Linked DNA regions of Homo sapiens. The protein of the gene in region 2 purifies or fractionates together with the protein of the main gene of each other region. This does not show direct contact. Each region holds a gene or a part of one and is shown on either strand. Other genes may lie near its edges.

Evidence for each region. Proteins that work in one complex are often made in the same cells at the same time.
Region 1: the proteins of DET1 (region 2) and CRY2 purify together in Homo sapiens (affinity purification with western blotting; one study listed by BioGRID). This does not show direct contact.
Region 3: the proteins of DET1 (region 2) and RNF14 purify together in Homo sapiens (affinity purification with western blotting, with the first as the bait; one study listed by BioGRID). This does not show direct contact.

The regions. Positions count from the first base shown.
Region 1 is NC_000011.10:45,877,691-45,881,756, reverse strand, and holds part of CRY2 (cryptochrome-2), read right to left. Parts: intron 844-4,066; 3' UTR 1-843. UniProt on the Homo sapiens protein: Transcriptional repressor which forms a core component of the circadian clock.
Region 2 is NC_000015.10:88,536,194-88,541,124, reverse strand, and holds part of DET1 (DET1 homolog), read left to right. Parts: intron 1-4,743; exon of another isoform or gene 4,744-4,790; coding exon of another isoform or gene 4,791-4,813; intron 4,814-4,931. UniProt on the Homo sapiens protein: Component of the E3 ubiquitin ligase DCX DET1-COP1 complex, which is required for ubiquitination and subsequent degradation of target proteins. The complex is involved in JUN ubiquitination and degradation.
Region 3 is NC_000005.10:141,974,821-141,979,751, forward strand, and holds part of RNF14 (E3 ubiquitin-protein ligase RNF14), read left to right. Parts: coding exon 1-135; intron 136-3,482; coding exon 3,483-4,010; intron 4,011-4,931. UniProt on the Homo sapiens protein: E3 ubiquitin-protein ligase that plays a key role in the RNF14-RNF25 translation quality control pathway, a pathway that takes place when a ribosome has stalled during translation, and which promotes ubiquitination and degradation of translation factors on stalled ribosomes.

The DNA.
Region 1 (4,066 bases), on a different chromosome or scaffold from region 2:
CCTTCACAGCTCCTGGGTAGGCTCTGAGGCTGGCTCTTAGCTTCTGGGGAAGGAACAATGACAGCTGGGATTCTCTTTCTAATTTTAGGTTCTAAATCCTGAAAAGGTAGGTGTGCTGTCTTAGGCTCCTATTACAGTACCAGGCATACCCCACACCAGTCAGGTATCTGTGTGTACTTCTGTAGGGTGGTGGAAACTTTTTAGATCTGTCTATGGCCTCATGCTCAGTCCCAGAAGCCCAAGGAAGGGCCTGGGACTGAGCCCAGTAGCAGAGAATTTTAAAATAAGAAACAGAGGCCAGGTGGCTACGTCTGGACAGCATCCATCCACTCCGGCCTGCTCAGCCTCCAGGTCAGAAAGCAGGAACTCAGCAGGGCTCTGGCTGCCTCCAGAATCCCATGCTTTGGACAACAGCCAGAACTGCTGTGCTCCTGCTCCACAGCCTGACGTGAGGAGGGAGGGAAGGAGGTCTAGGGAGGCAGATGCCAGAATCCCAGCTAGGGTCCTACCACTACGTTCTGTTCAGACAAGGCAGCTGGCTTGCAGGAACAGGTCTCAGCTGAAAGTCACTGCCATAACCTCGAGCCTTGTGTCTGGAGGCCGGGAAACAGCACTGGCGTGCTACAGGTACTCCCCCAGCCCAGGCAACATTCAGAATCATGAGTGTCAACAGATGCATGCACACACAAACAGGCACACCACTCCCTCCTCTGCACACGCGCACACACACACACATGCTCGCTCTATCTCTGCCCGGTGATCAGCTTCTCTGCAGGTTGTACTCTGCTGCTGCGGTGGCTGCTTGGGCACCCAGGCTTTGCTCACGGAGCAAGGGCTCTGCAGCTGGAAGAGAAAAACAAGTGCAAAAGGAGCATTCAGGAGGCTGCTCAGTTGCCCAGGGACACAAGCTCCTCTGGCTGCTTCTCTGGGGACATTCAGAGCGGGACCTGAGAAGAGCTGAAAGAGTGAGCTGAAAGGGCCACGGTACCTGGGGACAGGTTGTTGCTGGGATGCCACTGGGATGAGGGAATACTGCCCCTCTGAGGTGCTGATGCAGGACAAGCTCCCCACTGCAGGCCCTCCACCCAGGGCTGCGGACAGCAGAGGAGGAGGAGGACAAGGCTATGTGAGAGTCACGTGAAGCCCTGGGGGATACTTGCTCAGATATGACAAGGGCAGCTTCTGAATCAAGGCACAGCAGCTGCTGCCAGAGATGGAGAATCAGGAAAAAATGGCTGGAAGAGAAGCCCGCTGGGACCAGTAATTTTGAAGAGTAAGGCAATGACTGAGTTTACAATCAGCAGGTGAGCACATTTCCACATATAGATGAAAGCACCCTGGCACAGTGCTGGAAGATTGTGGGGGCAGGAGGGAGAGAGGAGACACAAGGATGACTCATTTTAAAGATTTATGACATCCGGAATCTGGGGCAAAGAGAAGAAACAGCTTCATCCCTGATAATAAAGGAAGGACAGAGTGCGCCTGTCACAATGCTGAGTTGTCTGTTTAAATAGGTTTAGTGTGTCTGGGAGTCTACAGAGACACACAGCGTCCCATTAAAAGTTTGTGCAGTTTAAATGTGGGTGAGGTAGACAATAAGTAGGCTTACTAAGCCTGCCGTGGGTCAGGTACTATACACTTGTGCTGTGGCTGAATTCTGTCCCCCACAAAATTCTTATGTTGAAGTCCTAACCCCCAGTACCCCAGAAGGTGACTGTATTTGGAGACAGGGTCTTTAAAGAGGTAATTAAGTTAAATGAGGTCATTAGTGTGGGCCCTAATCCAATATGACTGGTGTCCTTAAAGGAAGAGGAAATTTAGACCCAGACAGTACAGAGGGAAGACCATGTGAAGACATAGGGAGAAGATGGCTGTTTATAAGCCACAGAGAGGAGCCTCAGAAGAAAAGAAGCCAACCCTGGCAACATTTTGATCTTAGACTTCCAGCCTCCAGAACAGTGAGAGGACACATTTCTCTTGATTAAGCCACCCAGTCTGTGGTACTTTGTCATGGCAGCCTGAGCAGACTAACACAACTTGAGATCCCAGTAACCTTGAAGCTTGCCCTCCATTTTTGTAGATGAGAAAACAGAAACCAGAGAGGAGAAGGAACTTGCCCAGGACAACAGCATTCATAAGTGGCAGAGCCAAAAAAGGAAATCCACATCTGTCTGATTCTCAAATCTGTCTTTTTACTAGCAAGTAATCTCTATACGATAGTATTGCTCATTAAGACTTTTAGAGAAGAAGACTTTTAGAAGAAATTCAACATGGCAGCATGAAGACTAATATCCAACAGACATACATGTGAATTAAGCTGTTATTAGAAAAGGGAAAATGCTCTTAAAGTCAAAGACATTGGAGACAAGGATTCAGTATCATGCGATGCTTTTAAGGCCGCATGGTAAATCTGAAGCAGATTTTATCTGATGATAATTTATCTGGAAGCTGGGCAAAATAAAGAGCAGACATAAGAGTGGGTGCCTGTATAGGTCAGTACTGTGTGTCTTATTCTTTTTTTTTTTTTGAGACAGAGTTTCACTCTTAGTGCCCAGGCTGGAGTGCAATGGAGTGATCTTGGCTCACTGCAACTTCTGCCTCCCAGGTTCAAGCGATTCTCCTGCCTCAGCCTCCTGAGTAGCTGGGATTACAGGCATGTGCCACCACACCTGGCTAATTTTGTATTTTTAGTAGAGATGGGGTTTCTCCATGTTGGTCAGGCTGGTCTCTAACTCCTGACCTCAGGTGATCCACCCACTTCAGCCTCCCAAAGTGCTGGGATTACAGGAGTGAGCCACCGAGCCCGACTTTTTTTTTTTTTTTTTTTTTTTTTTTTAATAGATGGAGTCTTGTTCTGTTGCCCAGGCTAGAGTGCAGTGGCGCGATCTTGGCTCACTGCAACTTCTGCCTCCTGGGTTCAAGCAATTCTCCTGCCTTGGCCTCCCAAGTGGCTGGGATTACAGACACCTGCCACCACAACTAATTTTTGTACTTTTAGTAGAGATGGGGTTTCACCATGTTGCCCAGGCTGGTCTTGAACTCCTGATCTCAGGTGATCCGCCCCCCTCAGCCTCCCAAAGTGCTGGGATTACAGGCGTAAGCCACCGCACCTGGCTGTGTGTTTTATTCTTTAAAATGTGTGTTATTTTCAATAATTTTTCCCTTTAAGCTTGTACTATAATAACCTAGCCATTTTTTTGCTACAAATGTATGTATTATTAAGGTGTACATGTATTTATTGAAATGTGCTGATTCTGAGTATATACTCCACACACAGGGCTCTCTCTGGCCCCTGTTGTTAAACTAAAGAGATGGCTATTCTTCTGAAATAGAAAACTTTCAGGATTGCAGGATATACCACAAAAGGTCCTCCTTGCCCAACACCTCCATTTTTTTTGTGTGTGTTTTATCCATTTTCAGGGATGGGGGAAGATAAAGAGTGCATGAAGATTCCTTAGAATAACTGCTGTTAATCTGGGGTTCCTGGGCCTTAAGGAGCCCAAGGATAGGCTTTGGTGCAGTCCATGGAGCCTCTGGAGTGATGTGCACATTCCTCTCTGTGTGTGAACATATGCAGTTTTCTGGGTATGGGTTCCATCCTCCATCGACTTTCCAAAGTGGGGAGTAACCCAAACAGGGTTTAAGAACCAATGCCTAAGCTTAGAAGATAAGAGGGTGAGGTACAGTCAGGTGGATATAATGATAACAATTCAGACATATGTTGACTTCGGCACCAGTTAGTTTTGGGCAGGCTCATGAAGGGAGGGGGCAGTGTCCTGGACTCAGATAAGCCCTAGTCACCCAAGTCCCTCTATGATGGTTTCAAAGCTACCAATGCAGAAAACCAAGGTTTAGAAGAACCAACTTGGCCTCGCCTACAAAGCTAGCCAAAGGCCTGTTCAACTAGTTACTCGAGCTGCTTGATCAGCAGATAACTAGTTGGTGCCATGCTCTTGTCCTCAAGCTAGGGCATGCGTCTGTAGAAAAAGGGGTCTGGGGAAATCAAATGAGGTCTTGCAAAAAAATGATGATAGCAGGACTAAAGGGAAGGGAAGAACAGCCAAGG
Region 2 (4,931 bases):
TTTTCCCTATCTCAGTAGATGGAGCATACAATCGGGTTTTATACCGAGACATTCCATTGCCCAGGGACAGGCAGGAGACAGATGCCTTCCTCTTGTCTCAACTGCAAGAGGCATTCCTTCCCCTTTTACTAATCCTCCTCAGCACAGACCCTTTATGGGTGTCGGGCTGGGGGACGGTCAGGTCTTTCCCTTCCCACGAGGCCATATTTCAGACTATCACATGGGGAGAAACCTTGGACAATACCTGGCTTTCCTAGGCAGAGGTCCCTGCGGCCTTCCACAGTTTTTGTGTCCCTGGGTACTTGAGATTAGGGAGTGGTGATGACTCTTAAGGAGCATGCTGCCCTCAAGCATCTGTTTAACAAAGCACATCTTGCACCGCCCTTAATCCATTCAACTCTGAGTTGACACAGCACATGTTTCAGAGAGCACGGGGTTGGGGCTAAGGTCATAGATTAACAGAATCTCAAGGCAGAAGAATTTTTCTTAGTACATAACAAAATGGAGTCTCCTATGTCTACTTCTTTCTACACAGACACAGTAACAATCTGATCTCTCTTGCTTTTCCCCACACCAAGAGAAAAATTTTCCAGCATACATTGGAGGGGGCTCCAACACTTGCAAGGCTGGGAGGAAGTGTTTCCCATTTTTTTTTTTTTTTAGAAGGCAATTTAACAGAATTTGAGCAGAGGTATCAGATCCAACATGGACAGAGAAACTCACTCCCTGGGGGGCTGGAGTATCAGAAAAACAGAATTAACATAACCAGAAAGAACAGAAAAATCACAACAGCTAATACCACTTGCCACATTGCTGTAGCTTTAAGATTGAGGGAGGGGGACTAGAGGCCAGCCTGAGGTCTCCTGGGTCAGTTGGATCTAGGCGTTCTCCCTCTTCTTCTAGATCTGTACCCTAAATACCTTTGGTGTCTCCATGACTCAAAGGCAAATAGCTTAAATTTAGCTCTTTCTTTCAAGGGTTCAAGGAGCGAGAGCAGAGCCAAGTCCTGGAGACACTGAACTTGCTGTCGCAGTGGAAACCGAAATGTGCAGAGTAGGGGGCAGGGACGAGGGGGAAAGGGACCACTCAGGTCATTTTTAAGATGAGAGAGTAGCCACAGGGGAACAGAGTAGGAGTCTAAACGAAGTAAAGCATGACAGGTGTAGGTTTCCCTACACAGTGTTCTGTTTAAGGGCACAGGAAAAGTTACAGAATGACAAAAAAGGTGAGCAAGGAAATCTGCAGGGTGGCTGTTTTGAACCCACCACCGGTTTAATCTAGAGGAGGTCCAATCACTTGGATGTGGGGTATGGCAATCTAAATGCCCACAACTTCCATGGTGCCAGAGATTTCAATCAGATGAATGTTCTTCACACTCATTCCTGTAACAACACCTTACTTGCCTCTGGCAGAAAAGACAGGACTGTGGTGGCCAGCCTGAACAACCGATGAGAAATTTAACCTCTTGTGACAAAAAAATCAGCACTAAGGACCTTGAAGAAGTTTTTACCCAGACGTCTTGGGCAATACCGACGTCCTGACATGCAAAACCTTGACAACCACTAAACAAGACAATAAACACTAAGCAGAAAAATAAACATAAAACAAACAATTTGACCCTAGGGCAGGTAAACAGTTTTGACAGTTTTTTCCTTTTTTTTTTTTTTTTTTTTTTTAGACAGACAAGGGGGGGCCCTCCCGTGATGGGATCAGTCAGATGCCCACCTGGTCACTTCCCCTGAGGGGACTTGGGCTCCTCTTAGCATTGGCAGGCCGGTATAAACCCCCGGCTTGGATCGAGCTATGTCCGATGCTGCCTTAAGCCTTGTGAGGTCGCCCCAGAACTGCAGGTGAGGGCCCACTCAAACTGTGTAGCTTTCGCCGTGGAGCTACAAACTGGAAGACAAATGCAAGCCTTTGTCCTCCCACAGTCACTCACCATTCACAGAGTTTATAACAGTTTTTTTTTTCTTTCCTGGAGATTCTCCAAGAAACTTGAATAAGAGAAAGAGAGAGAGAGAGAGAGAGAGCGGTCTGCCAGAAACCAAGGCTCAGCTCCCCAGCATCCTGGGTCTTCAGCTAAGTCCAAGGGAGGGGCCTGATCAGGACCACTTCCCACCTAAACCAAGACACAGAGGCGCCTACCAGAAAACCAAGGCTCAACCCAGTAGCGTCCTAGAGTAACGGGCTGAGTCAAAAGAGGGATGCCCTCGTCAGGGCCACTTCCCTCTTACCAGAACCAGAACAAAGTCAAATCTGACCTACCTGACCCCGGGGTGAGAAGCTGAGGACTCAGATGTTGAATTTTAAGGCACTGACATGGTAGTCGATCCACTCTCCTCCGGAAGGTGGTCACTGTTTGGGGACCTGAAAATTCTTTCCTCAGGTGGTAACCCCCTCTGAGCCGGCCGTCCTTCCGGGGGAGCCCGGAGCAAGACCAACTCTCACCCAGTGGCATTAATTTCTCGCTGGGGCCTCCATTATGTTGTACCCGGGGTGTTAGAGAAAACGCCACACTTTGAGACTAATTAAGAGTCCTTTACTAGCCGGTGACCGAGAGACGGCTAATGCTCAAAATTCTCTCAGCCCTGAGGAAGGGGCTTGATTAACTTTTATACCTTGGTTTAGGAAGGGGAGGGGGGGTCTAGTTAAAACAATTTTACAGAAGTTAGGTAGTCAAAAAGTTAAAAGGATAAATGGTTACAGGAAAGTAAACAGTTCCAGGTGCAGGGGCTTTATGACTATTACAAGGTGATAGACGTGGGGCTTTGGGTGTTATCAATCAGATGAATTCTTGGGGACTGTGGATATAGCTTGCCACAGTATCTTATCAGTTAATTGCATTCTTGGATGTGCTGGGAGTCAGCTTGCACAAGTTAAGTCCTTGAGGAAGGGGCTGCCAGTGAAAGAGCCAAGATGGAGTCTGTCTGGCTCTCTTAGCTAAGGGAGAGTCTAAAAACAGAGTTAGTAAAAACCAGTTTGGGCATTACAAGTGTCCCAATTCAGTCAGGCTTTCTTCTTTCGTTCCATAAAGTACCAAATGCCTACCATGTGCCAGTCCCAGTGCTAGGCTCTGAAAATACCGCATGACCGAGGTAGACCTGGTTACTTCCTGTCTGGAGAGTACAGGGTAGCAAGGGAATCAGACATTAAACACAAGCATGCAAGTGAAAGTGTAAATACAACTTGCAGTGATTACTATGGAGAAGACAAAATGTAATAATAACGGGAGTCCTGTTTTAGATAGGATGGTCAGGGAACACTTCCTAAAGGAGACTGCACTTAAGCTGCAACTTGAGAAGTTACAGCAAGGGGCAGGGGAAATGCATTCCAGGCAGAGGGAATAGTCCCTGTGGATGCCTGAGTTGACACAGAACTTCCCGTTAGACAGGTCCAGTGTTCAAGAAGGGAGGCTTACCATGTGTCAAACACTGTGATGAGCATACAGAATATAGTGTTTGCGTACTGGTCGGTGGGACATCACCATCTAATGAGGGCCATAAACATAAGTAAGATCTTCATCTCAGCTGCTCAACTCTGCCTATGTAGGGCAAAAGCAATATGTAAATGACTGGGTATGGGAGGGTTCCAGTGAAATTTCATTTACAAAAACTGGGAGGTAGGGGTCAGGTGTGGTAGCTCATGCCTGTAATCCTAGCACTTTGGGAGATCAAGGCAGAAAGATCACTTGAGCCAGGGAGGTCCATGGTGGTACCACTGTACTCCAGCCTGGGCGACAGAGTGAGACCCCAAAAAATCCAGGAGGTGAGAGATGGGCTAGATTTGGGCTGAGGGCGGTAGTTTGCAGACTCTTGCTCTAGTCTAGATCAGTATACATTTTATGTCTTTACTCAGTGCATGTAACTCCAATATAATTGAAATAAACGTTTTACAAAACAGTGCTTACCATTGCAATATATGATAGCTTGATACTTTCTATTTCATTTTTTAAAATGTCCGTAATACTATTCACTAAATTGATCCAAGGCTCTATTCATGAGGTGTGACTAGCAGTTTGAGAAACTTGCTCAGTCATGGAGGTATGTACATTTTTAACTTGACTGGGTATTATATATACTTATATAAGGCATTTGGAACCTTTTCAGAAGGAGACAGAATATGAATAAATACCTCATTGTGTGTACGTTTTAAAATACAGATTGGATCCAATCGCTCCCCTGCTTTCCAGTCTTTTTCTAGGCCTCTCTTATCACTCACTCTGTGCTTCCTGTGCTCTAACCACTTGAAATTGCTCTGTTTCCCAAATGTGCCATGTCATGCTTTTTAAAAATGTGTCTTTTAGCCTTTTAGGTACCTTTTTATCTAGTTTGTTCCTTTTTTTTTTTTTTTTTTTGAGATGGAGTCTTGCTCTGTTGCCCAGGCTGGAGTGCAGTGGTACAATCTTGACTCACTGCAACCTCTGCCTCCCGGGTTCAAGCAGTTCTCCTGCCTCAGCCTCCTGTGTAGCTGGAGTCCCCGCCACCATGCCCAGCTAATTTTTGTATTTTTAGTAGAGATGGAGTTTCACTATGTTGGCCAGGCTGGTCTCGAACTCCTGACCTTGTGACCTCCCTGCCTCAGCCTCCCAAAGTGCTGGTATTACAGGCGTGAGCCACTGCACCCGGCCAGTTTGTTCCTCTTTTACTTTGTTTAGTGTATTCTTATTCTTCAAGGCTCATACCAATTGTTGCTCCATTAATTATTTTAACATATTTATGAGCGCTTAACTGTCCCTTCTCCTAGGTGCTGGGAATACAGCAAGGAATTAGACCAGTTCCCTGCTCTCTGGTATGGTGGGACAGATACTAAAAAGGTAAACAACTTAATTTCAGGAAGAGATAAAGACCATTAATAATATAGGGTGTATCAGTAAATTCATGTGGGCAGACGTAAGGTGCCTGGGGAAGATTTCTGAGGAGGTACTATTTTAG
Region 3 (4,931 bases), on a different chromosome or scaffold from region 2:
CTCCAGAATAGTGGCTTTGAATACACCATTTGCTTTCTGCCTCCACTTGTGCTGAACTTTGAACTGCCACCAGATTATCCATCCTCTTCCCCACCTTCATTCACACTTAGTGGCAAATGGCTGTCACCAACTCAGGTTAGACTTGAAACTTAATTTTTCCTATCCATTTTTAGAAACTTAAAAATCACCTTTAATTGAAGACTATCTTAAAGATCTTGAATTCAGTGCATGAAAAACAAATGGCTTTGGTTTTGTAATTTTTTTCCCTTGCCTTGGTGAATCCTGATGTTAAGAAATTGAAAATGTTTGGTGTTTTAAAAAGGAATGGCAGTAATTAAAACAATCATGAATTGTAGTAGGAGTAATTTTTAATCAAGTATATTATTTCTTTTCTTGTCTTGCTATTTTCCTGTTTAATCTGTATTATAATGGAGACTAAGAGGTCTTCCTCATTTTCCTTAGACATTGATACTACTTTTCTCTTAGTTTCTTATCCATTCCTTAAATGAAAGATTCCATTGTAATTAGGACTAAAAATTGAGCTAATGTAGTTATAATAAGCAAATTTTCTGAGTGAATACAATAACTGATTTTCTTTGTAAAAATCTGTATTAATAACAAATAACAGTCAACTGGTATCACGTAGACATAAATGCATACAAGTAGAAATGTGTATAGTTCCTGTAGATATCTCAGTAAGGCTTGAGGCCTTATGTTAAGCACCTCATTTCCTCTGGGTTATATATACTTTTCTAGTAACAACCTCAACTCTTGATTGAGACATAAATATGGCTTGAAGCTAAATATAAATAATATAAAGCATTCTGGGAGAGATAATGAATCAGCAGCTGCTTTTCTAGAAGTCATAATGAAGATCAATAGACTAATGTGTATTAAGACAAAAGCTCAGCCTGTGCAACATGGCGAAACCCAATTTCTACAAAAAATACAAAAATTAGCCAAGTGTGGTGGTGCGTCCCTGTAATCCCAGATACTTGGGAGGCTGAGGTGGGAGGATCACTTGAGCCTGGGTGGCAGAGATTGCAGTGAGCCAAGACTGAGCCACTGCACTCCAGCCTGGGTGACAGACAGAGACCCTGTCTCAAAAAAAAAAAAAAAAGAAAAAGACAAAAGATGTCAGAGTTGCTGACCTCAAGGAATAGCTCATTAGTTTTTCTCTTTGGATCATACAGTTTTCATTTCCCCATCCACCAATCTAATCTTTTAAGTGAGAGTACTTTCACAAACTAGAGCTTATGGTTTAAAAGCAAAATTAAACCTTAAAAAGGATAACACAGGTAGAATAAAAAGGAGTATTACTTTACATTCTAATGTCTGTGCCAGAGGCAACAGATGCAAGACAGTTGATTTGTCCAGGAATATCAAGACTGTTTGGCATTTAGGCCACTGATAGTTGGCTTAATTATTTAGATCTTCATAGTCCTATTTCACCAGAGAGCTTTTCATACTTTACATCCACGCATGTGCGTGCATGCACGTGCATGCACACACACGCACAAAACAGGGACAGATTAACTGGATGCGTGGTTGTGGTTTCAGATTCCAGCCAACCAGCATCTACTTAATGCTGGATTTGGGGGCGGAGGTGTGTGCTGGGGAAGAGAGTTGTTTTATGTGTTACAGCTAAAATTACAGTAGAATTCTTAATCAAATAAATGTTTATGCATATAATTAACATTTTAATTGGTCTCTTATATTCCTTCTTGGTTCAGTTCTTGTTTGTTGCTGTACCCTGATTCCTTGGCATTATGACTCTCACCTGTTAATGGTGAAATTGACACATAGAGCTGTCATTCCCTGAATTGGGGCGGGTAGACAGAGGGAAGTGGTTTTAGTTTTCTAAAACCTTATTCCTTATTCCTCCCCCAATATACTTACACAGTCTCTTTCCCGTCCCCCTTCCATTTACATGCATTCCAGCTGCCTTTCTCTCTCTTTTTTTTTTTTTTTTTTTTTTTTTTTTTTGAGATGGAGTCTTGCTCTGTCACCCAGGCTGGAGCACAGGGGCACAATCTCAGCTCACTACAACCTCTGCCTAGTGGGTTCAAGTGGTTGTCCTGCCTCAGCCTCCCAAGTAGCTGGGAATACAGGCGCCCGCCACCACACCTGGCTAATTTTTTGTATTTTTTAGTAGAGACAGGGTTTCACCATGTTGGCCAGGCTGATCACCAACCCCTGACCTCAGGTGATCCACCCGCCTTGGCCTCCCAGAGTTCTGGGATTACAGGCATGAGCCACCACGCCCAGCCCCAGCTGCCTCTCTTGAGAAGGGACTGGGGTAGAAAAGAGGTTGGAGAATGGCTTCTTCATAGGACTTGGTAGCTCACACAGCACTCATAGCTTCCCTTTTAGTATTTATCACATTTTACAGATGTTAGCAGATTTCTCAAAAGCATGGTTGATTTATAAGGATATTTATGCAAATGTGAAAAATCATTAGTTGTTCAATCTTAACTCATCAATAAGTATTTAAGGTAGTACCTATGCAGGGTTTAGTCAGTGGCACTACACAGAGTGTAAGAAACAGAAAATCTGGTCCCTTTTCATTTGTCATTTAAATTTACAAAATTTGTTTGCCATCTGGAAGGCATATTTTTGGATGTTTACCTAAAAAAGAAAAGCTGCTTATAATTCCTGTGCTCTAGTTAAAAATATTTTATATTTCTAATGGAAAATTCTCCAACATTTGCCTTTCAAATTGAACAGACCACTTTTAAAGAGGAAAATTCCAAATAATTTAATTTTGGTTGCTTAGCTTAGGAAGTGTAAGCTTTCTCTATGGCTGCCAAACCTTGCTGAGGGCTTGTGATTAGGACCAGGGTCAATATCAGGCAGCTTCCCTCCATTAACCAGGATCTGATATAAGCCCAGATTGCTTACTTAAAAGCAGCTTGTAAATCTGAACAAGGACTCTGAGGTTGAATTCTGTTAGTGATTGTTTCAGATGAGTTGACTTTTTGATAAAACTGAAAGAATTAATTTTAAAACTTGGATAGTATTTTTAAACTATTCTTTTTCTAACCATTATTCTAGGATACGAACAGGGCTAGGACTCCTAATGGAAGAAAAATAGTTTATTTTTAGAACTAGATCTCTTTGTCCTACATGAGGTATATGGCAGTACTAAAAGATTAAAGAACAGAAAAAAGTCTTCCATTTCAGTGGCTAAAATGTACAGCTATTTCTCTACCTTACGGAGTCTTGCTATTTCTCTTCTTCTCGTGGTACTTCTTGCTTCTGACTTTATGTTCTACTCTGGCTCATGTTGCCGAATAGTTTAAGAAGTGCTCCAGTAAGAATGTTTGTACTGTTTTGTATGTAGCACAGTGTATCACAGCAGTAAAAAATAGTGTTAGAATAAGGGCCTAACTTGCAAGTGGAAAAGATTTCTAGGGAAACCAGGAGTTGGCAGCAGCATCATCTTTCCAAACTCACCAACATCTTCATGTGTTTTCTCCTAGCTATCTGCTCTATGCAAGCACTTAGACAACCTATGGGAAGAACACCGTGGCAGCGTGGTCCTGTTTGCCTGGATGCAATTTCTTAAGGAAGAGACCCTAGCATACTTGAATATTGTCTCTCCTTTTGAGCTCAAGATTGGTTCTCAGAAAAAAGTGCAGAGAAGGACAGCTCAAGCTTCTCCCAACACAGAGCTAGATTTTGGAGGAGCTGCTGGATCTGATGTAGACCAAGAGGAAATTGTGGATGAGAGAGCAGTGCAGGATGTGGAATCACTGTCAAATCTGATCCAGGAAATCTTGGACTTTGATCAAGCTCAGCAGATAAAATGCTTTAATAGTAAATTGTTCCTGTGCAGTATCTGTTTCTGTGAGAAGCTGGGTAGTGAATGCATGTACTTCTTGGAGTGCAGGCATGTGTACTGCAAAGCCTGTCTGAAGGACTACTTTGAAATCCAGATCAGAGATGGCCAGGTTCAATGCCTCAACTGCCCAGAACCAAAGTGCCCTTCGGTGGCCACTCCTGGTCAGGTAACTGTTTACCCTGCTGATGGTTGCCTCCTAATTCTCTTCCATAAATGGAGATATCATCTCAGGAACTTCCTTGATAGGGCTCATGGGGCAGTCCGAGGCCTTGGAGCCAGCCCACAAGTTGTTTTGCTGTATCCATTAAAAATGCTATGGTCTTAGTCTACTGCTTAAGCAAATGGAATGCTTCCTTTGGCCTTGCAGTGGGCAAGGATGAGTGTTAAAGTAGTTATTAAGTAATTGTGATAATTTACTTTGTATATCTGCTAGTAGGATCCCATAAACCTTGGGGAATCACTAGCTTATTCTTGTGTGAGGTTGGCATCTGAAGGGGACGTCTCTTAGAATGATTAACCAACTTTTTTATAGACTTCAGCAGAAGTACAGCCTACTTAGGTGGTGGTGGTGTTGTTGTTGTTGTTGTTGTTGTTGTTTTGTTTGAGATGGAGTCTTGCTGTGTCACCCAGGATGGAGTGCAGGGGCATGATCTCAGCTCACGGCAACCTCTGCCTCCAAGGTTCAAGTGATTTCCTGCCTCAGCCTCCCAAGTAGCTGGGATTACAGGCACCCGCCACCATGCCCGGCTAATTTTTTTTGTATTTTTAGTAGAGACGGGGTTTCACCACGTTGGCCAGGCTGGTCTTGAACTCCTGACCTCAAGTGATCCTCCCGCTTTGGCCTCCCAAAGTGTTGGGATTACAGGCGTGAGCCACTGCTCCTGGCCAGTTTTTTGTTTTCTTATTAAAGCATAATTTTACTTAAAATAAACTACACATTTAAATCATACAAGGCTAGCATGGTAGCTTACACCTATAATCCCAGCACTTTGGGAGGCCAAGATAGGAGGATCGCTTGAGGCTAGGGGTTTAAAACCAGCCTGTGCAAAATAGCATGACTCCATGTCTTAAAAAAAAAAAATCAGGC